Regions from separate parts of the Homo sapiens genome. Here all the other regions are linked to region 2. The links come from fine-mapping of genetic effects on gene expression. A gene starts in region 2. Each other region holds a variant in brackets. All regions are shown on one strand. Distances are between the middles of the regions. Region 1 overlaps ME3 (malic enzyme 3). Region 2 holds the start of PRSS23 (serine protease 23). Region 3 overlaps LOC107984361 (a long non-coding RNA gene).

The links.
Region 1: its variant is fine-mapped to the expression of PRSS23 in visceral fat (GTEx, PIP above 0.99).
Region 3: its variant is fine-mapped to the expression of PRSS23 in prefrontal cortex (CommonMind, PIP 0.95).

Annotation. Positions count from the first base shown.
Region 1 is chr11:86,577,850-86,588,617 of GRCh38, forward strand. The region is part of intron 2 of ME3 (malic enzyme 3); the gene reads right to left. Among named protein-coding and RNA genes, the nearest start is that of ME3, 89 kb to the right of the region's middle. The variant C/T (reference allele first, on the strand shown) is at 5,213.
Region 2 is chr11:86,796,537-86,806,691 of GRCh38, forward strand. It overlaps PRSS23 (serine protease 23), which reads left to right and starts at 4,006. Exons shown (of 2, transcript NM_007173.6): 1 at 4,006-4,115.
Region 3 is chr11:87,421,941-87,432,708 of GRCh38, forward strand. The region is part of intron 2 of LOC107984361 (a long non-coding RNA gene); the gene reads left to right. Among named protein-coding and RNA genes, the nearest start is that of LINC02711, 290 kb to the right of the region's middle. The variant T/TACAC (reference allele first, on the strand shown) is at 4,480.

The sequences.
Region 1 (10,768 bases), 220 kb before region 2:
ATTTATAGGAGGAAATATCTAGGCTTAGATGGGTCAATGACATGTCAAGGGTGTGTGGCTAGTAAATGCCATACAACAACATTTGAGAATAATGGCTATTTCAATTGTTTTGCTATTGAAAGATTAGTTTTTGCGAAGTTGTTGGATAAGAACCAGCGTGGAAGAGATTCCATTTCTTTTCAAGAGAAATTTCATATCTGCTCCTGAAATACTTGGTGACTTTAGGATTTTGTCCATCCCGACCGAACAAGGGAACAGAGGTGGATAGTTGGAAAGATTATGAATCACTCTCTTGGCAAAATTCCCTGTGTTATTCTGAATGTTTCATGACCCTCTCTTCCCAAGAGACTATTATTTAAAATTTAAATAATACTGTTCTTGGCACCCTAATGGCCCTCTGAGTCAGCTGGACTGCAACAAAGTAATAGCAGAGGAAGGTTACAGGCAGGGGAGCAGCAGAGAACAAGGGAAGTAGCCTCTTTCCTCCAGCAACACAACAGCACTTTGATGGACTCAGCTTGGGAGGACTGGGTCAAAAGATGAACTGTGACCAGAAGGAAGAAAACAAACAGACACACTTTGGGAGGGTCTCAGAATAGGCACTGTACATGCATTCCTGGTGCGTGCGAATAAGTGGGCGGGGTGCCAGAACTGGACACGAGACAACCAAGGACAAGCTCATCTGACAGGGCAAGTGTCCAACAGATGGCTGTTAACCTGTTCCAGCCCTAATATGAACCAAATCCTCATTCTCCTGGGCTTCAGTCTCAACTCTGCCACCTTATCAGGTGAACCAGGAAGGAAGTCATTTTGTCCTGAAGAAAGTGGACCATTGTGGTGCACAGGAGATCACAGCGATCAGTCACCCTCTCTGTCTTGACACCAAGAAGCAGGAGTTCCAAAATCCAGAGGCCATTTTGGACTGAATTTGTAACAACTGTTTACACTTCACTGCTTTGTTAGGGTCTACAAAGCAGTTTTATTTGCTATGATAGTAGTTCTGAAACTTTGCTACTCATTAGAACCACTGCCCTATGTGGTAGGCTGTCAAAGTGTCATTCCCATTTTGCAGATAGGAAAGTTGAGGCTGAGAGAGTTCAATGATTTGCCTAAAATCATGGCTCTAGCAAGTTCTAGAAATGAGACTTGAATTTTGAGTTCTATTTCACCTTGTTGGCTCATTAATTCATTCATATTAAATGAATTATTCATTTAACAAGTATGTTTTGAGTACCAGCTCTGTACTAGGCATTAGATATACATTAAGAGACTAAATATATATAGCCCCTGCCTTCACTGAGTTTCAGTCTAATGATCTTTTCATTTGAACCGGTATTCTTTATACCCTTTCATATTTCAGAATTAATTTCAAATTATGTAGGCTGGTTTCGTGCCCAGCAGACTCAATGCTCAGCAGAATAGCACAAGTGGTACATTTACTAGAGCTCAGGTGTGCAGGTCCAAACTTGCCCATGAGAGGCAGTGGGCCACAGAGAAGGGAGATCAGGCCTTGGAGTTGGTGTTCCTGGCTTCAAATAATGTCTCTGCTCCAACTGGCCATGTGATCACAGGGAACTTTCTAAAGTTCTCTCTCTGTTCTCAGTGTCCTCAGTGGGGGACTGAAGATCATAATAGCCAAGCTCCCTGAGTGTCATGTGTCTAGCTACTGGCTGGAACATCTGAGGCTCTCACTAAACACAGCTGTGACCAGGCCATTACCAGATGCTGAGTACTGTGGAGAACAACCGATTCATGAACCTGGTGTTTCTGAGAGGCACAGCAGCCTAGGAATGTCCTTAGAATTTCCTGCCCTGTTTATTCCTCCTCCTTTAATCTCTATCCTCAATCCATTCTATTCATTTTCCTTAATAATTACAGTTTGGGTACCACTTATTTGGAATTTAAGGATAGGTGGTTGATAAATTTTAACTGGTGATAGTGACCTAATGCAGATCTAAAATTAATAGAGAAACTCAAAGGTCAATGGATTCCAAGTTAGAAGTTCAGCTATTGGGAATGCTGTTTGAATGGCATTCCCATTTTTTATTAGACTTATATTAAAAGAAAGTGAAAAGAAAATATGGAACCTTGGAACTTCAAACCTTTTGAGTTTTCCTTCTTTCCAGTGCTTAGCTGATACAATCAACATTGAGTTGTTTTCTTTGTCCCTTTCTGAGATAGAATCTAATTCTTGCACTTATGAATTTGAGAATCTTTAAAAATATTTTCTCATTTCATAAACATGATTAGCTCGAGAATCTATATGTTTAGGGGCTACATGCACCTTGTCAAATTGTTCCTTTCCATTCTTGATTTCCGGAAAGGTCACTGGAATTCCTGCAAGTGTGGCTCTGCTGTTCTAGATTGACATTGTCGACCCTGAAGGAAGCGATGTTGATGTTCACAGAGACCTGCAGAGTGACCTCTCCTCCAAATGCCTCAAAATAAATGATGGCATGCCTGAGACTACATTTAGTGCCATTTGGCTACCAGGCTTTTCTAAAACCTGTATCTTCTGGTAAGTAAAGTTAATATTTAAAGTCTCTTTTTAATTACCAGTAGGTAATAGCTTGTTCTAAATTAATGCTGATTGACTAAATACATGACTGAATGATTGATTGGGTCATCATTGAATAGTATGGAAATTTTAATTTGCTTTTATAGATGAATGCTCAGTTTGTGGGTCTGTATTTTATAACTTAAATTAATAAAGATATTAACACTACTTCAGTCTTAATATCAAATACTCTTGTGGTAGGTATAGAATGAACTAAGGCACTATTTCAGTTTTGTCCTTCTGCCACATCCCTACGAAATAGAAAACCTACCCAAGATTATACAGTTAATAAGTAGCAGAGCTGGAATGTAAACACAGGTCTGTGTGCTGCTGGCCACTGCCATCCATACTGGCCACTGCAGTCCATTTGTGCAAAATAATCATTTTTTTGCACAAATTTTAAGCATTGCATTCTTTGTTGTGATTTTGGACATTTTGCAATCACCTTTGTCAGCCACATTAGAGACAAGGTTTGATCAGTCTACCAAAGTAGGTGTTTCCTGGTCGGCCTTATCCCACAATATCCCAGCTTTTAACCTTGGATACCTTCTCTAGAGGAAAAGGGGGAAGCATACAACAACATTTAAGTGTTCTCTTCCAAAAGGCAGGAATGACAAAGTCTGGGAATTGAAGTGAAATATTCTCCCCAGGGGAATAAAATACAGCAGGGTTTGTCAAATTCAATCCAACTCTGGCCGTGAAATAGTAAGGAGAAACCAACATCTAAAAAAATATATAGATTTCAGTAGAAAATAGCAGGTTGCCTCACATTTAATAAAAGTACTGTTTTGCTAAACTTTTGCTTGTGTGTGTATGTGTGTGTATACACATGCATCCATGTGTAATTGGTATGTATGTGTACTAGCTTGTGGTATAAAGTGTACTTTTAACGATAGGTTGTGATTTAAACATTTTGAGGAATACTGTAGCATAGGATAATGATTATGAGTGATGGATCAGACTGCCAAAGTTTGAATGTCAACTCTGACCCTTACTAGCTGCATGGCCTAGGTATATTTTAACCTTTCAAGTTTCAGTTTTCTCCCCTAGGAAAAAAATAACTCATAATGTGTGTAAAGTGTGCAACAGAGTGCCTGATGCTTAGAAAGGACTCACTAAATTAATGTCAACTATTGCATTTTAAGTGAAGCAGTTTGGGTAAAAAGTTGATGGCAAGCAAGAGCAATGCTTTGCATTATGTCCCCAGAATCATTTTAATTCCAGATGCATACATTCATCTGCTTGCTGGCTATCCCCACATACATGTCTCAGAGGCATGTCAAACACCACATGCCCCAAACCAAGCTCATCTTCCTGCATTCCCTACTCAGCAATGGTACCACCAGCTACCCAGTAACCCAGTAAAAACTGGAGAGTCACCCTGGATTCCTCACCACTCAACCTATATATGCAGTCAAGTCATTAATAAGTTCAGTGATTTTCTATCTCCTGAATAGTTCTAATTTCCTCCTCTGTTATCCATCCTCCTTATAATCCCTGTTCTTTCCAATATTGAAATCACACCTTGTCTGCTATTAAACTAAAATCCTGCAACTCCTGAATTCTAGTCTTCACTCCTACTGTTCTGCCCCTGGAATACACCTTTTAGAACTTCTGCCAGACTGTCATTTTCCAAAAACCAAATCTGATAATTTTCTTGCTAACTTAAAACATCTTTAGCAAAGCCTGCAAGGCTCTTCATAAGCTGTGCATCATTTTTGGCTTTGCCACCAGCCACTCTTCCATGGGTGGCCTTTAATAGAGCAAACTATACCATTCCCAGAAGAAGCAGGCATTTTCATACCTCTTTGTGTGCATGTGGTAGTTCCTCTGTTGGGAATGACCTTCTGTGCCCATCTACTAATCAGTATAGTGGATTAGAGGATGAAGAAGACATTGATTGAAACTTACATTTAAAATTAAAAATTCAGTGTGCATCAGAAGCACCTTAGCTGGTGGGTTAAAATTCAAGTCCTTGGCCCCTACCTGTAAATGTTGATTCCAGGGCTTTTTACCTGCACCCCTGGTGATTATGAGAAACTGCACCAGAAGAAAGATAAAAGTCCTGTACAAATGCTAATCCTTAACACACATTCAGAAGTAGAGGTGACAACCTTGTCCTTGGGAAATATCTCAATAGAAATTCAATTTGGAGCATTTCCTAAGGAGAGTGGATAAGTGCTGACTTATTAGTAAAGATAGGACTTTTTAAATGAGCAGCAATGACAAGAAGGAAAAATACTGCTACTTAATGTAATTATCTATTAATGTTAGTGCCTTAAAATATAAAAACTGCATACTGCTAAAGCACAATGATAGCACTGGTCCGACACTGTTGTAGTGAGATCTCTTTCCCCCTAGAAGAAAACCCCACGGGAGTCCTGCTACTGGGTAAGTTTATAACTAGAGAAAATCAGTTGCCTCACCTGCACACAACACAGAGGCCCAGTTGTTTCCACCGAGTCTGAAACAAAAGGCTTTCTCTGTATTATCCATGGTAAGGAAAAAAAAAAAAAGAAGACAGAACAGAAGCTTCAAGTTAAGTATCTGGGCGTTAGTGGCAGTTAAAACTTGGTGAGAAACCAAGATCAGAGGCTGGCTTTTTATAGGGAACAAATTTCCGAAGCATTTTTATGGCTGAAAGTTTATGCAAAC[C/T]AGATAACCCAAGGCTTACAGATAAGGATCTTAGAAAGGGTTATGCTGTCTCTTTTGAGCTGTCCACCACCAGACCCACCCTGTTTACTCAGCCTAATCATTCATTCATTCATTCATTCCCTCTTTCATTTAATGAGCACAGACTGTGTGATATACATAGTGCTAGGTATACGTGGAAAGAAAGATGATGAAGCCTAAATCTCACATTCCACTGGGGGAGTTGACACAGCAGATATTAGGTTGATGCAAAAGTAATTGTGGGTTTTGCCATTAAAAGCAAAAACTGCAATTACTTTTGCACCAACCGAATACAAGATGTAGTGATTTGTCATTCAAACGAAAATGGTTATCAAATAAAGTGATGCTATTCATTCCTCAAAAATTTGTAGGGCATCTACTTTGTATAATGAAGTATGTCTGGCAGTGGTTGTTAGCTGGGAAAAACAAAGGTTCATTTTCTAATAGTAAAGACAGCTATTAAATAAATAATCACCCAATTAATTAATTCATTCGAAGAAATACTACAAAGCAGGTGCAGTGGATGCTGTTAAAGGACATAAGGAACCCCAGGAGTCCTGATGTCATTTTCTTTGTGTTGGGAATGGTATGTGATTAGAAGAGACTTCCCTGAGGAAGCAATATCCAAAATGAGATATGACAGATAAATAAAGAGTTAATTGTCTTCAACAATGGTATTGAGAAAACTGTATATCCACATGTAAAATAATGAAATTAACCCTTATCTTATATTGAAAAATGGATTACAGATGTAAAATGTAAGACCTGAAACTATAAAACTCCTAGAAGAAAACATAGGGGAAAAACTTTATGACATTGGACTTGGCAATGATTTTATAGATACAATATCAAAAGCACAGGCAAAAACAGTAAAAATAAACAAGTGGGACTGTATCAAACTAAAATGCCTCTGCACAGCAAAGAAAACAATCCACAGAGTGAAAAGGCAACCTACAGAATGGGAAAAAGTATTTGGAAATCATATATTTGATAAGGAGTTAATTTCCAAAATATATAAGGAACTCTTACAACTCAATGGCAACCCCCTCCAATAACCTGATTGTAAAATGGGCTAAGGACCTGAATAGACATGTTCCCAGAAAAGACACAAATATCCAACAGGTATATGAAAAGATGCTCAACATCACTAATCATTAGGGAAATGCAAATTAAAACCACAATGTGTTATTACCTCACCTCTGTTAGAGTGGATATTATCAAAAAAACAAAAGGTAACAAGTATTGGTGAGGCTATGGAAAAAATGGAACCCTTGTACACTGCTGATGGGAGTGTAAAATGGTGTAACCACCATGGAAAACAGTATGGAGGTTCCTTGAAAATTTAAAAATGGAACTACCATATGATCCAGCAATGCCACTTCTGAGTATTTACCCAGAATAATTAAAATCAAAATCTCAAAGAGGTATTAGCACTATTCACAATAGCCAAGATGTAGAAAGGATCTAAATGTCCCTTGACAGATAAATGGAGGATAAAAGGGCATATACATAAAATGGAATATTATTCAGCCTTAAAAATATGGAATGCCTGCAATATACAACAATATGGATGAATCTTGAGGACATTATGCTAAACACAATGAGCCAGTCACAGAAGGACAAATACTGCCTGATTCCACTTACATGAGGTATCTAAAATAATCCTACTCATAGAAGCAAATAATAAAATGGTGGTTTCCAGGGATTAGAGGTAGGAGGAAATGGGAAGTTTCTAATCAATGGGTATACGATTTCAGTTATGAAAAATGAAGTTCTAGAGATCTGCTATATAACATTGTGTCTGCAGATAACAATACCATATTATACACTTAAAAATGTGTTAAGAGGGTAGAGCTCATGGCAAATGTTCTCACCACAGTGAAAAAAACTGTGATAAAGACTAATAATACATCTTCAAACATAACAACAAAAAAGAGTTAATTAGGCCAAGTGGTGGTGCTCGGGGTAGGGGTGGTGTTGAGCAGCTTTCTAGGCAAAGAAACACCACGTTCAAGGCTTGGAAAAGGGAAGGTGCACAGACAGGACCAAGACTGTGCAGTGTGTAGGTGACTTTGCTGAGGACTTAGGTTTTCAGCTTCAGGGCAATGAGAAACTACTGAAAGTTTTAAACAGAAGAGGCATAATTAAATCTGTGTTCTTTAGAAAAGATCATTTTGGCTGCAGTGAGGAGAATTTTTGGAAGGGTCCAAGAATGTGCTGATAAATTAGAAGTTTCCTGCAATGGTCCAGTTAAGAGGCAATGGTAGCTTGTGCTAGGATGGTGGAATGCAGCTGGAGAGAAGCAGGAGGATAAGAGATACATGGGGGAGAAAAAATGCACAGGATCTGGTGATAGATGAGATTTGGGGGTTGAGTGAGAGAGAGGGGTCAAGGATCACTGCCATCACAACTGGATGAATGGTTGTGGTGTTCACTGAAATGGGACACTAATGATGAAGACCAGGACTGGTTTTGGGTGGGAGTGGAAGGAGAGGAGCTCATCTCAAGTTTTACTTTATATACATTGAGTTTTCCTTTGAGACATTTATCTGGAGGTGTTAGTGGACAGTTCCATATCTATAAGTCTGGGTCTTAGAGGGTAAAGAATTAAGTTGAAAATGATGAGCAAAAAGATGGCAATTGAAACGATAATGGGGTTGTATGTATTACTCTATGGAGAGAGCTTAGAGCAAAAACAGAGCCTGGCTTGAGCTTTGAGAAGCTCCAGCTTTTTAAGGCTGGATAAAGGAGGAGACTGAGATGGGACAGCGGAAAGAAAGAAGGAGAACCACAAGATGGGTTGTCACCAGGTGACAAAGGAGGATGTGTTTCAGGAAGGAAGGCGTGACCAACACTGCTGAGTTTCTCTGAAAGGTCAAATCATTAGGATGACTGAAAACGATCTACTGGATTTGGAAAAGTGGAGGTTCTTCGTAACCCAGTGAAGAGTTGATGGAGTTATACTGGAGTGGTTTGAGGAAAGTTGTGACAAAATGGAAACAGCAAATGCACAAAACTTTTTCAAAAAGCTTGGCTACTAAAGGGGGTGGTTTAAGGTGGAGATATTTGAGCATGTTTAAATGCTGATGGGATGGAATCCTCACTTCCAGGTATAGGGGCAAACAGTTTATGGTGTTGTCAGGAAAAGTGGGAATGATTGCCTGTGGAACCCAAGCTGGGTTGGATTAGGTTAGTGGGTAGGAGCAATGGCTGGAAAAAGTGAATGGAAAAATGTGAAGTGGAGAACTGAGTAGGATTGGAGACTGTGGTGGGGTCCGAGGGGACAGCTGACCCGGCAGCATCTCTGGTTGACAGTGTGTTGTTAGAATCACTGATTTCTGACATGGTGGAATTTCACAAGATGCCGAGGTCCAGGGTGTGACTCTGGGAGAAGCTGAGGACAGGTATTCCAGTTAGCCAAGACTAGGGTGTTGGAGAAGCCAACATATTGATGCTGAAGTCACCCAGGGTTATGGCAAGACTGGGTGGAGAAGGTCTATAAGCTGGTGCCAAAGTCCTCAATAATTGAAAGGTGGTAAATGACAGTGATGAAAAGGACAAAAGTTCAATATCTCTAAATGGCCCAACTCTTCAAATAGGAGCAGAGAAACAGATTTTGTTGTGGTGGTAGCTGTTTTTTTAAATAAAAGGATGGGGGAAAACAGCTCTGAAAATGGTTTTAGGGAAAGAAAGGATACCTAGCTGTGTCCTGACTTGGGAGCCGAAGAGTGAAATAATAAGCAACCTCCATATGAGAGGGGTTTGGATGAAGCAGTCACTCAGGGTAAGGGTAGGTTTTAGTTGATAGACAGAGTTGGATAGAACTTGTGAAAAGAACTGAAGATATAAGGGAAACGTGTTCCTGAAAGCCAAGTAAAATGGGGTGGAGAATGGAAGTGGCAAGGATGTGCAGATCTGAAAGTCTGTCAGAGAAATAGATGAAAATAAAGAATGAGTCAGGAGTGTGAAGAATGGGACTAATGCTTAGGGTTACAAAGGAGGTAGATGGTAAGGTTTTGTAAAGGAGGTCTTAGTTGAGCTGAGATCAAGTAGAAGTTCTGCTGATGGGCAGAGGAGGAGAAAAGCATCCAGGTAGAAGAATCAGCAGGCACAAAGATGCGGAGGCCCAGGAGGCATTTGGCTTGAGGCCAGTGCAGTTTGCTTCAGCATGGCTGCTCTGCAGAATCCCAGAGGACCAGTGGTAAAGGAGGAGGTCTTTCCCTGAGACCATTTTCATCAGGCCTGGGCAGGCATGATGCAGGCAGGCCCAGGTCAAGGAGAGCTTTGGTTTCCAGCTGGGGAGCCTTGTGGCTTAGGGATGGGCTTTTAAGCAGTGGCAAGATGTGATTGTCACTGTTCCAGATGGGTGGGTCTCTTCGCTTTCCTCATGCCCCACCGTGCTGTGCTCACATGGTTGCTGTGATGTCCAACCCTCTGGGTAAATTTTACTCATCCCTGAGGCCTAACTCGAGTCTTGCCCCTGGAGTAAAGCCCTTCATGACTACTGTAGCCCACACCTTCCTCCTTTCCTCCAAATGTTTTTATTTTTCCAGTCAGAATCACACTTCAAAAGAAAGACAGTAGAAAAAGCCGTCATTCACGGTTTGTGTGAGCAAGCATCCTCCCCACCTAGCTAGAGAGAAAACTGGTAGGACATAAAATTACTGTAACTAAGGGAGAATAACCGGTCTCTCTCATTTAAAAAGATAACAGAACAAATTGAGTTACTTTTAGAACAATGGAAAATAAAGGATTTCCTTCTTTTTTCTGTTCCACTGCCAAAAATGAGTGCCTTCTGGCTCAAATATAAATAAGAGTTCTGTTTGAAAGTCCTGGATTAATACTGTCTCAGTTAATGTCTGGATGTATGGCCTTAAGCAAGTTACTCAACTTCTTAGAACCTCAATTTTCTCATCTGTAAAATGGGCTAATAATACTAATTCCACAAGGTCACCAGAAGATCATACAAAGTCCTTTGTGTATTTATGCATCATATTAATTGTATGCCTTACTATGTGCCAGGCATTGTACTAGGAGCTAAGCTGTGGCATGAACAAGATAGGCACAGTCTTGCCCTCCTGGAGCTTACAGACCAGAGGGAGAGAGAGACAAATAGTTTCACAATTAATTGGCAGTATCATAGTGTAGAAAGCCTGGCAACAATGTCTGGTTCAGAATACACCTCTAATACCCATTAGTCCCCTTCTGTTCTTAAGTTCTCTCAGTCAAAGTAATACAACAAGTAATAACAATAATATAACAAGTAATATAACAAGCTGTTTGCTAACACACATTAATTACTTAACTAATTTTCTGGGGCTCTCACACTGTAAGTGGGGACTATCTCAGGCTCACACAAATATAGATGATGCACTGGGGAAACTATGGCAAGGTGACTAAATTCATGTCCTACCAAGGCTCCTAAGTCAAAGGAGACCCCATAGAAAACGCCATATTTCAACCCCAATACGTTTGGCTTACTAGAGCAGAAAGGGCAACACAGCAAGCTGGAGGATGAGCCATTGTTTCAGGACTTAG
Region 2 (10,155 bases):
AGGCTGAGGCAGGAGAATGGCGTGAACCCGGGAGGCGGAGCTTGCAGTGAGCCGAGATCGCGCCACTGCACTCCAGCCTGGGCGACAGAGCGAGACTCCGTCTCAAAAAAAAAAAAAAAAAAAAAAAGATTACACATAATAAAATATACTCCACAGTACCTGGCATATAGTATGCATTCACTAAGCATAGATACAATTTAGTCCTAGTTCTGCTCCCTTAATTTATGCATTGATTTTCTCATCTATACAGTGGATATTTTTCTTCTTGTCTGTGTTACAAAGTAGTTTTGTGAACACAGTGAGGTAATGTCCAGATTTTTATGCTTTGAGCTTCAGCTCAAATTCTACCTCAAAGCTTTCAGCACCTGCCAGAGTGGGAATTAATGATTCCCTCTTCCATGTTCTCTAGCTCATGTCTGTATCCTGATCCAGCTGATATCTTGCTTTCTCCTATATTTGATTTTGTTTATGTCCATTGCATACATTCCTCGAGCTGAGGGGTATTTGCTTTCTCTCCCTGACAGCCCAAATAACCTTACACAGAGTGGATGATCAGAAAATGTGTGGGCTTTGCCCTGAATGCATTTTGAACAACTCCATTGCTACGCATATAAAAAGTATTCGGGAATTACAATTATAGAGTTGAACTGAGTTCTTAAGAAGCAGTGAGGATTTCGGTTTTGGTTCCCCCGACCCCCTCCCCACTGGGGAGGGAAATGGGACGAGTACAAAAAGAAAAGCAAACCTCTAATCTTAGCATGAAGACATCTGCTGTTTACATTGGTCATTTGTCTCAGAGGTCAAAATACAGTTCTATCATCGTCCTTATGGCAATCGTGATGACAACCTAACAGCCAGGAAGTAGCCTCTCATTTTACTCTTGGTAGCTCTGAGGAACAACAAAAGCTTGTGGTGCATGTTCAAACCCTGAGCCCCCGTGGGACATCTGTAGTTAAAGAGTCCTTCCTATTAGCTCTTTGGATAGTGGGCGGTAGTCCCTGAGACCAGATGAAGGACTGTTGTGCTCTTGGGCCCTTCTGTGCCTCAGTTTTTCTCTCTGAGTGATGGGAATAATCATCTTGTTCTCCATGACTCTAACTTGAAACATTGCAACTACTAGGAAAAAAATGAGCAATGAATGTCAAAGCTGACTGAGGTGGTACTGGAGGACTACACTCCGAAGCAGAGCCAAGTGTGATAAATATAACAATACCTAATATTTATTAAGGGCTTGTTCCATGTAAGAAACTCTCCTAAGCACACTATGTATATTCATTCAATTCTTAAAAGAACTCTATGAGAAAGTCCTGGTTTTACAGAGGAGGAAACTGAGGTACAGAAAAGTTAAGTGAAAAGCCACACAACTAGTAAGCGTCAGACCTTGGATTGGTACCCCATAGTCAGATGCCACAGGCCACTCTTAATTATGTTGCTGTATGGTCCTCCTATATGCATCTCTTTAATTTTGTGCCTAGCGCAATGTTTTCCATGTAATATGTGCTCAATATATATTTGTTGGATTGAAGTGACTCTAATACAACTTGAGCATGGTTGATAAATCTCTCCCTTCTTCCCTTCCTTCCAGCTGCACCTCCAGTTCCTCTATTAAGATACTTACCTTTTAATGGTGTTTCTTCAATTGGGAGCTACAGACACTTAGAGATCCTCAATTTAATCTTTAAAATTTTTATAATAAAAGATAAACACATTCTGGATCATTGGGATGACCATCTCATGCCAAGTACTGCCTCTTGATTGCAGCACCTGTGTGTACTAGTCTTTGGCAGCAAGAGTTACCACTTCACTTGCTATGCTAATAAGAGAGAAACAGCACAAATACCTAAATAATGTATTAGAGTCAAGAGAAACCCATTGCAATGACATATGGTGTGGGCAAAGGAGATATGGTAGATGGAACGAAGGAAAGAGGTGAGAGAATTGAGTCTGCATTGGGCACCTCACACATCATGAGAGTGGCAGAGCCACAGGGAAGTCAAAGGTACTGACGCCTCAGCTGTCAGTACCATGCAATGCTGATAGTAGTCCAGGAAACGTTACTAATTTCAATTTTATTATTCTGGAAGAAAATTTTTATAAATCTGTTTTGGTTTTATTTGCGAGTTGTTCAAAAGCTGTAACATAAGTTTATATCTGGTTTTGTGTCTGTGTGTGTTTTGAGACAGGGTCTTGGTCTGTCACCCAGGTTGGAGTGCAGTGGTGATCATAGCTCATTGCAACCTCCACCTCCTGGGCTCAAGCCATCCTCCCACCTCAGCCTCCCAAATAGCTGAGACCACAGGCGTGTGCCACCACAACTGGCTAGGTTTTTTGTATTTTTTATAGAGATGGGGTTTTGCCATGTTGCCCAGGCTGGTCTCAAACTCCTAAGTTCAAGCAATCTGCCCACTTTGGTCTTCCAAAGTGCTACGATTACAGGCGTGAGCCACTGAGCCTGGCCTATGTCTCTATATATTAATGTGACATTTTAAAAGAAAACAATTGAAGCTAAGCTAAGAAAAATTTGCCCTTAAAATGGTGGAAAATATCAGTTTCCTTTCTATTTAAGAAATACCAGGCCGGGAGCAGTGACTCACGCGTGTAATACTTGCTGAGAAGGGAGGATACTTGAGCCCAGGAGGTCTACGCTGCAGTGAGCTATGATCCTGCTACTGCACTCCAGAATGAGCTACAGAGGGAGTACTTGTCTTGAAAATAAAATAAAAGAAAAGACCACACAATAATGTGTTCAGGGCTTTCTCATGTAAAAGTAATTGCAAACACCAACGTATTAGGCATATCAGTAACACCTTGGTGTGAAATAGCACTTTAGACCTTCCCTTTCTGAGAGTAGACTTTGATAGGAGAAAGGAAAGCTAAGTAGCTTGATAGAAAGCATGGCTCAGTGCAAAATCTTGTCCTACCATTCAGTAGCTGTGTGATTTTGGGCAAGTCATAAAACCTCTCCAAACCTCCTGTTCCTTATAAAAATTAGTGTAATCTCTGCACCTTCTTCACCACAATGGCCTATATGTAAAGCTCTTGACCGAAAACGCTCAATACACAGTAATCTATACTAAATAGGAAGGCTCTAACACTAGGACCTTAAATGGCAAGGTCTCCAGCCTGGTTAGGAGAGGACTCCCCGCACACCCCCCTACCCTGGCCCCCAACCACCACCACCAAGATAACGACCGCTTGGAGTGATTCAGGGAAGTAGGCCCACTGGACAAGGAGGTGGCTCCACCAGCTGGTGCCCCGATGAAGAACTGAGGCCAGTGGGCTCCCCAGCCACCGCCGCTCAGAAGCTGCCAAGCACCCCCGGTGCTTTGGGCCCCACGCACAGCACTGAGTGCTGTAAGGAAATGCAAAGCATTGGTGGCCCTGCCATGGGAATACAGGTTTCTGTTCTTTGGAGGCACCGGAGAAACTAGGAGTTCGGTCAGCACCTTAAGGCGCTAAAAGTGTACGTGGGGGTGGGGCGCACACAGGTTCTGAACCAATTCTTCAAATTTGCCCAGGGCTCCCCATACACCAGGTGTGGCCCGCGTCCCTAGTTCTAGGCTGTTGGGGGAGGGGTCGCCTTTTGTAGGGGACCTGGTCTTTTTGCGAGCTGGCAGCGTGCTCCCAGCAGCGAAGGCCGTAGTCTCGCTCAGGAGGCCGCGCGCCAGACCCGGGGATGCGCGGTGTTCAAAGGGTGACGGCGCGCGGGTCCCGGGCAGGAGAGCCCGCCAGAGCCGGTGCTGCCTGGCGCCGAGAGGCCCGGACTGGCGACTGCTGCCGCGCCACCGGGGCCCACCTGCGCAGGGACGCTCGGCCTCAGGCCCTCTGGGCTGCTCCACCCTGCTCCGGCCGCAGGCGAGCGGCGAGGGGAGGGGGGCACGGTTTATGTGCAGTGGGGCGGGCGGCGTCCGCGCGGCTTCCCCGAGGCCGGAGGCGGGGCGGGCGGGCCTCGGGTGGCGCGGGGGGCGGACCCGCCAGCTGCCTGCGCTGCTCGCCAGCTTGCTCGCACTCGGCTGTGCGGCGGGGCAGGCATGGGAGCCGCGCGCTCTCTCCCGGCGCCCACACCTGTCTGAGCGGCGCAGCGAGCCGCGGCCCGGGCGGGCTGCTCGGCGCGGGTGAGTGCGGGCACCGACTGGGGCATCCGCCCGGGCGCGGGAGAGGCGAGGCGCCGGGAGGAGCGGGACAAAGGGCCGGGTATGCGCGGGGTAGGGTAACTGCGGGCTGCCGGAGGCACCGCAGGACTTCGCCAGGGCAGTCCTCGGGGTTCCAGGACACGGGCTGGGGGCCTGAAGGAGCTCTGGGGAGACGGCGGGGGCTGCAGGTCATTTGGATTCATGCAGTGTCACCCATGAAACGGATGGGGAAAGAAGATCCTGCTGTCTTGGGTGCAGGATGTTGGTTGGGAAGCAGAGAGAGCCGGCTCTCGGCAAGCTGTCCTTCGGCGGGGGCGATGGCTACACCCCCATGCACCCCCCCAACACACCACCACCACTACTTCTTTTCCTTGAGTTTTGCATATACCGGATTCCATCAAGTTCTGAATATTAAGTTTTAACCCTGGGCATGTGATTGTGAACACACCTAAGCAAGCAAGAGAAGTGCAAAAGTGCAGCAAATACAGGCTGGGAAATAGAATCTTTTCTCCGGAGTGGTTGTCCGTGTGCGTTCCGGGGGTGCTAACCCTAGACACTACAGTCTGAACTAACAACAGTTGTTGTAAGCAAATAGTTCTTCTGCCTGTAGGCATTCATCACGAGTTAACTTTTAAATAAAAGTTTTAAAGTTTTAAAAGGAGCGGGAGAAGACTTGTTCAGATGAAGGAACACCACCACTCCTCTCCAGAATACAAATTAGGTTTGCTTTCCAGCACCTCAGGAGAAAGCAGCTGATAAAAATCCTGTTTGTTTTACTGCCCACTGGGTGACACCAGTAAGAATTAAGCAGCTCAGTGTAGGTATTGGAATAGGGCTTGCTTCTCTCAGCTCCTGAAACTAAATTTGAGGGCTCCCTGTGCACTCCTTAGGAACAGGTAGGCCAGTGCCAGAATCCTCATCACATGGTCATGTGAGAAAGAATTGAATTTATAGATGAGGTCAGCTGTGGTCAAAAGCCCTATGTCAAAGTAGTATCAGGATATTTATTGCATGTTGTTTCAAGATCCTACTTGTGCATGCGAGTATTTGTGACAGGTTTATAACCGTGCCTACCATGAAGTCTGTCAGGAGTGGATTGGAGGTGAAGTGGGGAGAAGGAACTTAGAAAATGCCCCCAGAAGCCACTATGTTTATTTGTGAAAGTGTTTGCACCCCATCTGCGTACGAAAAGGTTGTTTCACTTGCAGTTTTCCTAGTTAAATAAAGTCAAGCGGTAACTTGTCCTTTCCTGTGCCTGAACTGGGAAGGAAGCCTTTTTCCAAGGTGCCTAATATGGATCTCATTTTTGTAACACTGACGACTTATTCAGCTGGATGGTTAACATGGATGCATTTTCTGGTTGTAGCATAAGTGTCCATTAATGCATCTGAGAACATTTTTGTCCCCAGTCTGCAATGGTTAATAGTCTCAGGTTCTCCCAGTAACTCTTCTCATAGATCCCTTAGGATTTCATCCACCAGGCATTATTCATGCCTAACTCCCACAGACTCCAGGGAATTTGTTTCTCATGTTCTCAATATTAGCAGGTTTTTTTGCACTCTGTTCTTGTTCTGCCAGGTTTGTCCCAGGCTCAATTTAGTTTACCTGAAATCCGATAGAGAAGAGGCTAAACTTCATTTGACCACAAGATTGTGTTTAGGGTTGCTTGGACTTGTAAGTGCCTTGTAGTTTCCTGTACAAGACTGTAATTCTTAAACGATTATGTGATTAGGTCTGTTTTGCCTTAATAGGGTCTGTGATTCAGGAAAACGAGAACAAGCCCGACTGCAGAGTATTCACAGAGCTTGGTTCATTCTTAAGCATTTGCTTTAGGATTTAGCATGATTTCACCGTTCCATATCACTGACCACTGATTCCATGGAAGACCCTTTGTCATCTCTCCAAATGGTGTCCAAAACCTGTATCTTTGCAAACTTTCCTGCCGTTTCTTTCTGTCATTACTGTTTATAGCGGCTGCAGGAATTCACAATTTGTACAATAGAGAATACATGACCTAAGGATTAGGTTTTCCCTCCCAGCACTTGTTTGCTATAGGAGTTAAATCATTCTCTCAAACAGTGGCCCTCTTGAGGAGACCTGTGTTGTTGCAGTTTTCAAGACTAAGGTGCCGTGCAGGAGACAGTAGTCACTGCATCCAGTCTCCAAAGAGATTGTTGTTTGCATATCTGTTAATTATGCAAAGTCCCACCACCAAGGGCCTATGAAGTGGCAGCATCCTCAAAAAGTATAAATATTTTCAGACAGTGGCTCATATTGAGTGATGGAGGGTGGACTGTGTAACCTATTTATGAATCAGATACCCAAAGCTGGAAAAGGAATAGTTTCTGTATTACTAAGCATGGTGAAAAAATATTTTCTTACCTTCATTTTCCATTCTTCCCTGCCAGTTAGGTGAAATGATGCACGGAAACACTTGGTTGGAAACCTTAAAAGATAATTTATGTATACCAGGAATCTTTATTCAGCAAAAGTTTATTCCTAGAAATGAAACGTTATAGACCTAAATTTTCTTCATCCAGACTTAGGTAAAAGGGTGAGATTTGAAAATCTTCATTCCATTTTTAAGGTGTGAGTCTTCCAGGCAGCTCTGCAAGGATAAGGTGATTCATTTATAAGGGTGAGAGAGAATTTAAAATCATGTAACTCATTAGTTACCTTTCCAGGTGTGGGATTATGAATGTTTTCATTACATCTGTTTATACCTTAGATGAGTGTTTATGTTTAAGTAAACTTAAACAGGTATAGCACAGGCTTACCCAGGGTTTATACAGATGGTAACAATAATTATTTGTCTTCTAAGGAATTACTCCATTATCATGTGAGTTGAGAAATGAATGTAAATCCACCAACCTAATTTTAAAGCATCACAGTTTTGCATCATTTGTTGTTTTATTAATGCGGATGAGTCAGGGCAGGCTGCGAATGCCTCAGGAAAGACCCTTAATGGACAGGAGGGTTGTTTCCCCCTCAGGCTTTTCTTTGGGGCCTGTCTTAAGAGCATACACACACAGCCATCCCTCCACTCAGTTCTTGAAAGCTGCCTTCTGCTGGAGTCACAATTTGTACAATAGAGAATATATGACCTAAGGATTAGGTTTTCCCTCCCAGCACTTGTTTGCTATAGGAGTTAAATCATTCTCTCAAACAGTGGTCCTGTTGCAGACTGATCAGGGAAATCTTGTCTGCCAGATAGATGAGAAATTAGCATGATTCATTTTCCTTTTCCTTTTCCTTTCCCCCTCCTTTGCCTCCACCCTCCATAATTCCATGAATCAATGGTCCTGAGAAGTAAATGATAGTACAGACACTATAGTCAGCATCGTCCCTGACCTGGACTTACGTGATTCTGGAAAATTATAATATTAGGGAATCCTGGACCTAAAGACCAGAGCTAAAAAGACCAGCTAAAGCAATCATCTGGTTGAGGATGCTATTCAGAAGAATTTCTAAAGCACCCTAAATAAACATTTGGTAAAGGACTAAGCAACTTAAGAAGCTTGTAGCTTTAATACAGACATCAGTTTAAACCCATTTAAGGGCTTGAGAACCCACAGCTGTATCTTCTAATTTCTGATTAGATATTTTAAAAATATCTAAGCCTAATCAGTTTGAAGTAATTTGATGGGCATTAGTTTCTAAAAGTCTGCATTCATTTCTAAATCTGAATTAAACTTTTTTAAATGCAATTTTATAACTTTTAGCGTTACATGGAAGCTTTAAGCAAGATATATAATGCTGTCAGAACAAAGTCTTATCACACAAGTTAGTAAATAGGGTTTAGTAATGTGGAGAACTTGGAAGCAGAGTTGCAAACTAATAGAAATTAGGACTTATTAAGTCTCTGAAAAATTTATTCTTCAAAGTTAAAGCTTCACACTGTCCTGTTGGGTTAGCAGTTTGTTTTTTTCTTATAGATGGCTGGCTTCTCCTTCACTCCTGGCTAAATGAACAGAATTCAAGTTGTAAGAACTCTGAATTAGTAATATTCTATCATGCAGTAGACTCTTTAGCATTCTCTAACAGGATTCTGTGATTCATAACTGATCCCAAAGTTTCTTGAGACATAATCATTCATCATTTTGCCAAAGAATACATTTGATCCTCTATATTGAGAGGTTGGAGTAAGGCTGTGGCTCATGAAAGAGGATATTGTAACTGCCATGTTCTTCATGCACATTGAAAATATTATCTGTAGCTGATGATAATACATACTATAATACTACCTCATCTCCTACTCTTTCTCCCCCAAGAATCGTATTTTAAAAACAAGAACGCTTGGCAGGTTGGACCTCCGCATTCTGTGTTTTCTTTCTTAAGATAAGCTGAAGTAAAACTTGGCTTACCATGTGCTCAATGTAAGTCACATTAACATTCCCCACATTACTCAAAGGGAGGAGAGAATGGTGCGTTGAAGCCCAAGATACAGCCATGTGGGAGATATATGACTCCTCCTAGTCCCTGTCACATTTGGCAGGGATTCTGGTGTGAGTGGGGCATTTAGTCACCTAGACAGCAACTTATATAGAGAAAAGGCTGCTCAAGTCCTCGATAAGCCCAAGGGATGACTCCTTAGCCAGTAGGTGGGAATAATCAGAACCATGCCCCACAGATCTCCTAAAGGGTTGTCATCACCACACCCATTTCACTGCCAAGTTCTCCATTGGAGAGGAGGACTCAGCTAGCATTGGCATCCCCTTCCTAGTCCACTTAAAACCTTTAGTCTTGGCAATATTCCCAACAAGCACATACAAACACGTGTGTGCACATATGCGGGCACCCCATGTTTTCAAGGATTTAAAGAAATAATTAAATGTATTTCCTTCCTACAAAAGGGCTCAGGGACCCTTCCTATTTGGAAAGATGGAGACAAGTAGAATTTCAAGGAATTAGGGAGTCCCAAGGAACTGGCTTTTCCAGGACCTTATTTCTTTCTTTTCCTATCCCTATTCTCCCTGACTGAAGTGGAAGCCAAGAGAAAAAGTCAAGCAAAAAGGTCCCAGAGGTGGGTGGGGCACACACATATGTTAGAAACACAGTGTGGATATTGGGAATGAGAATGGGCATGCTCAGCTATACTACATCAGATCATTGGGATTTTCTACTTTTATATAAAAGGGAGCAAAAGGCACCCAAAGTTGCCAGTAGATCTGTACTTTCAAACAGGAAGAGAATGAGAATAACAAAACAGTTTCTTCCTAACTTCTGCTGTGTTCCCAGAGCCTCTTGAGACCCACCCCTTCCGGGTCCTTGTTTTTGGATGCTTGGTTGTGAATGAGTTACCCTACCTGCTGAGTCAGCTTCTATTGAACCAGAAGAGTCAGAGCCACTGAGAGCCAACTGATGCTTAAACATTTATGAAAGCACTTTCAGTATTCCTCGTTGTTGTTTTTCTTGTGGGATGATTGATCTGGGCATTTAAACATACCTTGCAGTATAAAATCCAAACTTCTTTGTTTAGTACACATAGCACTTCACAATCTAGCTCTTGCCTGCTGCCTCCACCACTTCCTCTACTCCACCCTTGCTGAGCTAAGTGTGATTCCCCAAATTACTCACATGGTTGCATGTTGCTGTGCCCTTGCACAGACTCTTGTTTCCCTTCCCTAAGTATCCCCTTCTCTCTGTCTTATGTTATCAGACTTCTTTTCTACTTCAGCACCCATCTGAAACATCAGGTGATGCCTGGAAAATTTCTAGGCAATTTGTTCATTTAGAGGGTAAATTTAAATTACATAGCTTACTGAATGACCGAAGCATCAAGGAGGGACAGCTCCACGGTGTCACCTTTACTAGGACTCCTATTGCTTCTAAATGGTGGGTACATTTGAAAAGAACGGGTGCATTTGCCAAATAATACATTTGGTCCTCTATATTGAGAGGTTGGAGCGAGGCTGTGGCATACTATTTCTCAAGCATCACTTCTCCTAGAAGGCCTCTCTTGTTCTTACTCCCACAATTGGCCTCAAGCTGTTTCTCTGAGCTACCGCATCATCCATGTACA
Region 3 (10,768 bases), 630 kb after region 2:
TGGTCAACTCTTTTCGAGCCTAGAGAGGGAAAAGGACCAGTCCAAAGACACATAACAAACTAGTTACAGAGCCAGGGCCAGAAGCCAGGTTTCCTGCTGCTCAGAAAAGAGCCCTCTCTATCAGCCTTCCTCTGCTGACTTTGACAAGGTGGAATTATGCCACAGTGAATAGAAAGGTACTGAGAGAGGAGCAAATCAAGGGGAGGGGAAGCTTGAGGATGTAAGCAAGGGGAGTCACATGCTGTCTACCTGGAGAATGGAAGTAGGGGCAGGATGGAGCCCCCTGGAGAAGTCTCTCCACCTCTTCATGCCAACCTGGCACCTGCGTCCTCCTCCCTGAGCACTCAGGGCCAAGCGTAATTGTTGGTTTCCCTGCTTGAAGGACTGATCTGATGATTCACGCTACTGATGTGTTGCAAATGATTCTCAGTAAGGGCAATGATGGAAAGCCTGGGATATATTAGAATCATCTGAGGGGCTCAGGAGACTGTCCCATTCTCTGCTGCCAAGATTGCCACAAGGGAAGGAAATGGGCCTTGTGTAACCCAGAGGAGCCTGGGTGAGGTGCTGGAGGCATTCACCATGGGGCTCTGGCTAGGAGAGCCTGTTTTCTGTCATGTTATGCTGCCCAGTGGAGTTTTCCCAGCAGAGCTGTCTCCAGTGGCCTCCTGGCTGCCTGGCATGGAGATCCAGTCTCTCTTGGAAAGTCTGGACAACTCTCCCCTCTAACTCCAGCTTTCCATGTATATTTTTCCTCTCAGCCTTGGTGCTTTGTCTGCCTGACTTTTCAATTGACTTTCCCCTGAGTCACAAATTCCCCAGCTCCTCCTTCCCCGCAGGCTATCCCAGGTTCCACCATAGCTGGGAAAGGCAGGAAGCAGCTATCTCTCCCTTGGAGCAAAATTTGTCAAACACAGAATGGAAACAGAGCTTGCTATCAACGTGCTGAAAATGCTTGTTGCTGGATACAAAATGTGATATCAAGATACTCCAGAGATACGCCCTTGCTGTTTCTCTAGAGTCCTTCTCTTCAGGTGATATTTGGTTATTTATTTTAGCAGTTAAAAAATTCTTAACTTTATTTAGTGATTTTAACATGTCTCTGAAAACATAGGTATTTCAGGGACAAATGAAGCCATGTGGAAAATGACTAAATGCAAAATGACTTGTTAGTCATTGTAATTAGCAAACAGATCTATTTTTGGCTAATTTATATAGCATTAATTACAAATACTTAGGGGATGTTTACTGGGTCTTGTGGGCTTTGCAGGCCTTGGATTGTGCTAAGCACTTCATGTGCATTTTATGGTTTAATCCCTCACAACAACACTCCAAGGGAGATAATTTTATTATCTCAATTTGCAGTTGTAAAAACAAGCTTAGTGACTTGCCCAGAATCACATAGCCGGCTGTCAGGTCCTTGATGGCAGGGACCTTGCCTTATCTCCTGATGTCCTCCATTTGCCTGCCACAGGATCCTAGAAATAATAGGGCCAAAGAGATGCTGGTGAATGATGTTGGTGAAGATGATGATAACAAATGATGACTTCCGACTAAGATGCAAGGTTTCTCCTACTCCACCATTTACTTCCTTACTCTGTTCCCAGACGTACTCTGTTCCCAGACGTAATCGGGACAAAGATACTCCCATTACAGACTGTGGAAAACATCTCACCTTCCCTCCAAGCTTGGGAATGGTGAGAATGCCTTGATTCTATTGTTGCTTCTGTTTTTCATCTGTAAAATGGGGACAAAAGTATGACTTTAGGGTAAATGAGACATAAACGTACATCATAGACGTAAAAACACTTTTTAAGTTGTTAATCATTAAACAAGAGAGATGTTACTTTGATGAATAGTCTGCTATTCAATATTAATAATAATGTACACACCAAGCTGAAAGGTGGGCTACCTTCTCCTTACTCCGTACGTAAAGCAAAATTGTGATCTCATCTTCCATGCTTGCATCTTGGTATTTCGAAGGTGGAAAGAGACAACGGGAGCTACTCATTCCTCCTCTTAGGAAGGAGGGCCTGACTTTCAAGTCTATTTTCTTGCTGTAGATGGAAAAAAAAACCTGATTTTGAATGCCAGAGCTGAATACTGTAATTTTAGTATTGCACTAACCCCAATCACCCATCACCCCACAGATAGATGCCTTGGGTTGAAGACTCTTTCATTATACATTAAACTGGTGTTAATTCAAATTTAGTGCTTGGCTGGGGGCCTGTCCACAAACTTTTTGTTACTAGCCTATAAAAAGATACATTTAGCAATTAATGGTAAACATTTAGAAATATTTCACAGCAACTTTACAGAGTTATTTTTATATCTGTTGAATTGAAGAAAAAATAGTGGCTTGCATTTTGTTTGTCCTTTTAATATTTAACAATACATTTTTATTGCCTTTTCCAAAAGTATAAGTCTGTGGTCGATTGAAATTTTTTTAAAAATGTTATTCCCTACTGGTAGTTTGAGAAGTACTGCTTTATACCTGAAAAGGAGGGAGTAGATGATTTTTAGCCTTTTATGCTAAGGATCCTTTCTAGCTCTATGAAAATGTGTTTGCCTCCCTCTCAGGGACCACACCATGTGGTATGATGAAGGACCTGACTATGACCAGCCACAGAAGGGCTCATACACCCTTCCTCCAGGGAATTAGGTGAGGACTCACTTTCTGTTGGTAAGCTCAAGAGAGCCACCGAAGTGATTATTTTCCCAACAACATCAGAATTTGCTCTTTGGCGACTCCTGCCTCTCACTGGATACAGAAGTAACTGGCAACATTTTAAATATGTGGCTCACCAAGCACATCTTTACCATAAAATGAGAAAACGGGCTCAGAGGGATGAAGTAACTTGTCCTAGGCACATAGCTAGTAGAGCTTAGAATCCAGATTTAAACCCAGGTCTGTTTTCTCCAAGAGCTCATGATCCTGCCAGTTTATCACAGTTTGTTTGGAAGGTTGAGACACACAGTCTCTGCAAAAACTGTTGAGGAGTCTGGAGAAGGGGTAAAGAGAAAGTCAGTCGGGCATACTCAGGAGGTGGAGAAGTGTGGAGAAACTGACAGAGCGGGACAGAAGTGTCAGGCATTGCTATGGGTTAGAATGAGCCCCCCACCCCAATTCATATGTTGAAGCCCTAACCTTCAGTACCTCAGAATGTGAGCTTAAGGGAGATAGGGTCTTTTCATAGGTAATCACATTAAAATGAGATCATTAGAATGGGCCCTAATCCAATATGATGGCATCCTTCTAGAAAGGGGAAAATTTGGACCAGACATATATAGAGGGAAGATCATGTGATGAGACATAGGGAGAAGGTGACCATTTACAGCCAAGGAGAGAGGCCTTAACAGATCCTTCCCTCAGAACCCTCAGAAGGAACCAAGCCTGCTGGTGCCTTGATTTGGACTTGATTTGGACTGGATTTAATGATTTGGACATCGTTAAAGATTCCAGAGATGGCTGGTTTCCGCCAGTGGGAGGGAGAGGACCTCATGCCGGCTCCATCACTGATAGTGTCTTATGCTGTTAACATGTATTTACCAGCCTGTCAGGGCAGAGGGAATGAGGATGTTCTCTGCAAGCCTGTCAACTTTCTCATCCAGTTCCACTCTCACTGTCCTGACTCCTCATGAATTTCTGGCCATGAGTCATTCTTTCAGGACTGAACTCTACAGCCCTGTTACAGAGAGATTTTCACCAGATCCAACTCTACTAGCCTTAAATGTATAGTAAGCATTGCATTGGATGGTGCACATGTTTGAAATAAGTAGCCCAGGCCCTCATTTGCTTCCTTCGGGGGCAGGCAGACGTTCTACGTCTACCACCTCAGAATTCCTCTGAGTTCTGTTGAAAAGACAGACTACTGAGAATGAGCAGGCCACCTGAGAAGGGAGCCATCTGTGTTCTATGGAGGAACAGGGCTCTTCTGGCCATGGGGAGGCCATGGGAATAGGAAGCCAAGGAAGATTCAAATGCTCTGCTTCACAAAGGAATATTTTCATAAATGCCACAGTCACTCTTGTGGGAGGGTCCCTCTGACTATATGGAGAGGCTCTCCGAGCCTTTTCTGGAGGCTTCTTGAGTACTTCCTTACTCACCTTTTGAAACAACCAATTTGCACTTTGGGGGCAGAAGGATTTCTTTGGAGGAATATTTCACATTTTTTTGCAGTGATGGAAGTGGGCATTGTCAGATGGTCTGCAAAGATGGTGAAGGTTGGTTGCCACTATTTTGTCTATGAATGGTTGTCTCATGGGTCATTGTTAAGGATTGTTGTTTCTGTGGGCTGGCTGCATTACAATCACCCAGCAGTTTAAACAGTAAACATTCCTGGGTTCCTGCTCCCTGAGATCCTTATTCAGGAGTTTAGGCACATATCTAGGAATTTGTATGTTAAAAATATCTCTGATGATTGTAATGTGCAGATAGATTTGGGAACATCAGTTCCCCATTTCTACATTGCTATTATG[T/TACAC]ACACACACACACACACACACACACACACACCCCTTTAACAAATATTCATTGGGAACTTTCCCTGTTCTAGAAAGTGAGCAGAGACCTAGGCATATAGGGACCAAAGGCACAATTTTTGTCCTCAGATAGTCAGTCTAGTGGGAAAGACAGGCTGGGATCAGATGTTGACCATACAGCATCATAAATGTTTGAGTAGAGTTAGGCCTAGGATGTCTAAGAACATTGAATCTGCTTTTGGGGGTGCATGTGGGAACGGAATTATGGCATTTGTTTTCAACTGGGGGTGATTTTGCCCTGCGGAGGTATTTGGTAAAGTCTGGAGACATTTTTGGTTGTTAAAAGTTGGGAAGGGTGCTTCTAGAATCTAGTGGGTAGAGGCCAGTGAGGGATGCTGCCAAATATCCTATATGCACAGAAAAGCACCCCACAACAAAGAATTATCTGGCCCCAAATGTCAATAGTGATGAGACTGAGAAGCCTGGGGATAGGAAAGTCTTCCTAGGGGTTGAAACTGACCAGACACACAAAATGGAGAGTTGGTAATGGGAAGCTTACTCTAATGCAGAGAAAACAGCAGAGACCTTGAGCAGGCACACCTTGGGAGCTGTGTGATGATATGCAAGTTGGCACAGGTGGTGAGGGAAGAGGCCAGAGAGGTTGAAGGGGACTTGGGTTCCCTGCATTAGAGAGTGGATTTCTTCCTTAAGGCTAGAGGAAGCCACTGAAGCCGAAGCAGTCAACTGCAAAAGTAAACTTGCATTTTAGAAATATTACTCTGATATAAGGTTGAGGGATTGAGGGATGCCTGAGATGGAAGGGCTGGGCTGGGGGCACTCGGGTTTCTCAACAAAGAGATAAAGACAAACTTTTTAAGAAATATATATATATATATTTTTATTATACTTTAAGTTCTAGGGTACGTGTGCACAACGTGCAGGTTAGTTACATATGTATACATGTGCCATGTTGGTGTGCTGCACCCATTAACTCGTCATTTACATTAGGTGTATCTCCTAATGCTATCTCTCCCCCCTCCCCCCACTGCACGACAGGCCCCAGTGTGTGATGTTCCCCTTCCTGTGTCCAAGTGTTCTCATTGTTCAATTCCCACCTATGAATGAGAACATGCGGTGTTTGGTTTTTTGTCTTTGTGATAGTTGGCTGAGAGTGATGGTTTCCAGCTTCATCCATGTCCCTACAAAGGACATGAACTCATCATTTTTTATGGCTGCATAGTATTCCATGGTGTATGTGTGCCACATTTTCTTAATCCAGTCTATCATTGATGGACATGTGGGTTGGTTCCAAGTCTTTGCTATTGTGAATAGTGCTGCAATAAACATACGTGTTCATGTGAAGAGAAACCTTTTCAAACCCAGATTGAGTCTAAGAGCCAAGGAAATGTGCCAGATAGGAAAGTTGCAGAAGATGGAGGGGGCTGTAGGAAACCCAGAGAGGTTAAGTGACTTGTGTAAGGATGGGTAGTAATTTTTGGCAGACCTGGAAATTTTGGCAGATGATCTTAAAGATAAACATATACTGTAACAATTGCTTTATATTATGGGGCTGCAGAAACAACTGCTGACATTCCCAAACCTTACCTGTAGTTGAGTTTCCTTGCTGATAGTAAGGATTGGGCTGTTATCATTCCAGGTATTAGTGTTATTTTATTGCCCAAAATAGTTCTATAAATGTGGTATTATCTTCAACATTCATAAATTTGAAAACTGAGATGCAATGAGGTTAATCTCATAGATAATGTCAGTTAGCTATTGCCGCATGAGACAATACCCACTCCCTAAATCAGTGACTTGGTACTGCTCATGAGTTTATTGGTAGCTGAATGGCTTTCTGATCTCTGCTGGGATGTCTCACAAGGCTGGAGACTTGGCAGAGGTAGTGCAGCTCTGTCTACATGGTCTTTTCAGGCTGACTTAAACATGTTCTCACAGCAATGTCAGAGAAGCAATGGAAGAAGCAGAAACATGAATACTTTTTCAAGTCTCTGCTTCAAGCTTGCTACTGCCCGATTAGTCAATGCAAATCACATTGCTGAGGCCAGAGTCAGAGTGGGAGGGGACTAAGGGTTATAGGGGAAAAGGCACAGATATAGGAGGCTATTAATAAGGGCCACTAAGTCACTCTTCTCTTCAGCAAATAGTGGCAGAGCCAGAATTTGAGCTGGATTCTTCAGATTCCAAAGTATATAATTTCTCTACCAGACTCTCCTGCTTTGATAATAAGAATGTAATAAAAAACAATATACATTAGTTCATTAGTTAGGATTTTGCATCAATAAAGACACTTTCATATGTACCTTTTTTTTTTTTTTTTTTTTTTTGAGACAGACTCTCACTCTGTTTCTCAGGCAGGAATGCAGTGGTGCCATCTTGGCTCACTGAAACTTCTGCCTCCCAGCTTCAAACAATTCTCGTGCTTCAGCCTCCTGGATAGCTGGGATTACAGATGCATGCCACCACACCCGGCTAATTGTTGTATTTTTAGTAGAGATGGGGTTTTGCCATGTTGACCAGGCTGGTCTTGAACTCCTGGCTTCAAGTGATCCACTGGCTTTGGCCTCTCAAAGTGCTGAGATTACAGGTGTGAGCCACTGCGACAAACCCATATATATTATCTTAACCAAGGCTGAGACAACCCTGTGATACTGGCAGAACTGACATCTTTGTTTAAAGAAAAAAAGCAAAAGCAATTAAATATTCAGATTCATAAACAGCTAATTTCCTTAGTAAGCAAAGAGTGCTTAGGCACAAATAAGAAAAAGATAATAGTATAGTGGGCAAAGGCCACAAACAGGTAATCAATTAAAAGAGAAATGTAAATGGACAAACATGAGAAAACACGTAATGTCCTTCCAAATAAAAGAAATGCAAAATGTAAAAATGAGATATCATTCTATCCTACTGGATTGATGAAGACTTTTAGGTTTCATGATACCCAGTGTTACTTAGGGACGGGAGTATGGGCCAGAAATAGGAAGCCTTCTATGCTGATGGTGGGAGAATGAATTGGTGTGATATATTTGGAGGGTAATTTTGGCAATAGTGATAAAAATATGCATATGAAATTTGACTTAACTATTTTTATTTTTAGGAATTTACCCTAAAGATAGACCTAAAAAGGTCTGCAAAGATATCCACAGGGATATTCATTGCAGGCTTCTTTGTGATAGCCAAAGAATGGAAACCCTCTAAGCCAATTCAGAGAATGGGTTATATAGATTTTCTTTTAACTTTGTCCAAACTAGGTGTCAAGGAGAATGAAATAGATCTTTATGTCCTGACATGGAAGGATCTCTAAGACATATTGTGAGAGAGAGGGAAAAAATGGCATGTCTGTGAACAAGATTTACAATTTTTCATTTGTTTAAAATAGAGATATTATATACATGCTTGTGTCAACATAGAAAATGTCTCAAAGGACATCTATGAAGCAGTTAATAGTAGCTAATTCTGAGGAATAATCAGAAGGGTGGAGGAAGAAAAGGACAACTCTATGTTTAACTTCATTCTCTTCCTCACTATCTGAATTCTTTCCCCATGAAAATGTACTACTTTTATCTAAGAGAACAGAATAGAACAGAGCAGAAAACAGATTGAAAAGAGGTTATTGTATTTGAGTATCATTTTTTGCTGGCATAGCTTGCTTTTATAGTTGGTCAATTTGCTCAATTAGAAATCTTTTTTTATGGTCCTCGTCTCCACCTATTAAGAAGGCTTTATTCTTGCTCAGTGTTAACGCTTAAGAATGCCTAGGAATTGTTTCCAAGGAAACCCATCTATAGCCAGATGTTAATGGTATAAGCTCCTATGGCTACAGATAGGGTCTTGTTTCTTAGCAACTCACTCAAATCTTCTCATTTTAATTAAAATCATACATTTCCTTAAAATGGAAAAAATTCTTTTCCTATTCGTAGCAAGGATATGGAAGGTGATTTATCCTTGTTCATGAAATTTGCCTCTGAAAAAAGGCTTTCGTGAATGTGAAGTGAAATCTAAAAACATCTCCTTACCTAAGGGTGCCCTCTTTGTCAAGTGCATAAATCAGTTACTACTTTCTCTTTTTAAATAAAAATACATTTATTTATTTTTAGAGACAGAGTCTCATTATGTTGTCCAGGCTGAACACAAACTCCTGGGCTTCAAGTGATCCTTCCGCGACAACCTTCTGAGTAGCTGAGGTTACAGTTACCCACCCCCACGCTTGGCTCTCTATCACTGCTTTCTACTCAACTTCAACCACCCCAATCTGGGTCTCTGCCTTTGACATCCTCAGGTATAGTGTGTGACAGTTGAACACCATTTCCTCATCTAGCTAGCCCTTAGGTTTCTTATCAAGACTGACTTACGTAGGCACAGCAGATTCATAATGCCAGTACCACCTTTCTGGTGACCTGCACTTAAGGCAGACAGTACTGGCCTCTTTCCCACCAAGTATTCACAGGGCTGCATGGTCCTGTTCATTGCCCTGCTTTGGGCAGCCACGGTGCTGTGCTGGAGCTGCCCCGTGGGAGAAGCCTGTCATCCTGCCCTGGGTGAAAAGAAGTGAAAACATATACATCATGATAAGCATAACAAGTTAAACAATTGCCAACATTGTGTATTTCCTGAAATGATCCACTGAGAAGGACAGACATCATTTCTCTGGTATTCGTGAAAAAAAGAAAGTATGTTCTAAATACAATAATGAGGAAACCTCAGGCAAACATGAACAGTCTACAAAATAACTTTAAAGTGGTCAAGGCCATGCATGACAGTAAACACTGAAGAACTGAGCATAGAGATTGATGAAAATACCATATCATATCTCTACAACTTTTCTTTCTTCATGGAAATATTCCTGGATGGCAACATTTTTGTTATCAGTTATTGGAGCCCTCCACACATTTGTTTCTTGGATTCTTGAGATTGTGAGATATGGACCTTGGGGATGCTGGGGATAGAGACCTGGGGACAGGACTGTCACCCTAAGAAAGGCCTGTGTGGGACACCTTGGGATCTCTGGACAGACAGAGGGTCCTGTTAGGACTTTGTCACTGTGGCAGAGGGAGCCAGGAGCCCTTCCATTGGATAGAAAGGTAGGCTGTGACTCAACCTCACCCACTGAGTCCTAAGTGCCAGTTTCCCTGGGTGACTTGAGCCAGTTGCTGCCAAGTCATGCAGCTAGTGTTCCCTGGGTGCCTTTCAAGTGGCAGCTGCTGTCCTAAGTGCTGGGGCTGCAGCTGTGAGCAGGACTAACAGTACCGTTCTTGGAAACTTCAAATCTAATGGCGAGGTCAGCATGCAGACAAAATGTAGAAAATTAGGGAGGTTCAGGCACTATGGGCATGCACACCAGGAGATTCCATCCTAATTTGGTGGGAGTCAAGGAAGGCATTCTGAAGGAAGTGGCAATGTCTACACTGAGATGTAAAGGTCGGATAAGGGTTCACCAAGTAATAGGAAGGAGGAGCTTCCTTGTCTGCAAAACAACAGGTTCGAGTGACAATGATCAAGCTCCCTTAGCTCTCAGTCTTTGTTGTGTGTTATACCACTCAATTCCGGGACACAAGGTGAGCAGACGGACTAGTGACAAAGACTCTGTCTTTGACCAAACTCTAGCCAGGCTCCTTTGAGCTCTCTTCTCCACTAGGCCTCAACCTTGTTCTATACAGACTTGAACAAACACTAACATCATTACTAACAGCTCAAAGTGCCTGCCGAAGAAAACTTAAGGCTGCCAAAAAAAATGTACTGTTTGTTTCAGCCAACATCTAAGGACGGGGCCTCTGTCTTCCAATTTCTGTGGGAGGATGGAATCCTAACTTTGGTAATTGCCAGCTAGCAGACACGGCTGGCCTGATCACACATAAATAAAACAGATGCGGTAAATAGGGTAGATGCAAATGCTCCCCAAATGAGTCATGAAGAAAAATAAGTATTGGCCTGGAAAAAAGGGAGAGGTGGAGAGAAGAGAAAGAAAGCAGTACACAAAGCCCCAGATCAAGAGGAAGATGGTGCATTGCGGAATCTGCAAGTACAGTAGAAGCTCTTCCACAGACCTTTGCTTAACTAACTGATTGTTCTTTGTGTTCTTCAACTGGTGCTCTTTATTCCCTGTAGAAACACACTGACTGACTTATCCTTCGTTGTAAGTTTTCGCTTCCCTAACTCCACTCAGCTCCTGCTCACCTCACTCCCCATTCTCTCATTCTTGCTTTAAAATGACCAATCAGCTCTTTATAAATTGGAGCTCAGTGCAGTTCCAGCTAGACTGTTTTCTCTGTTGGAA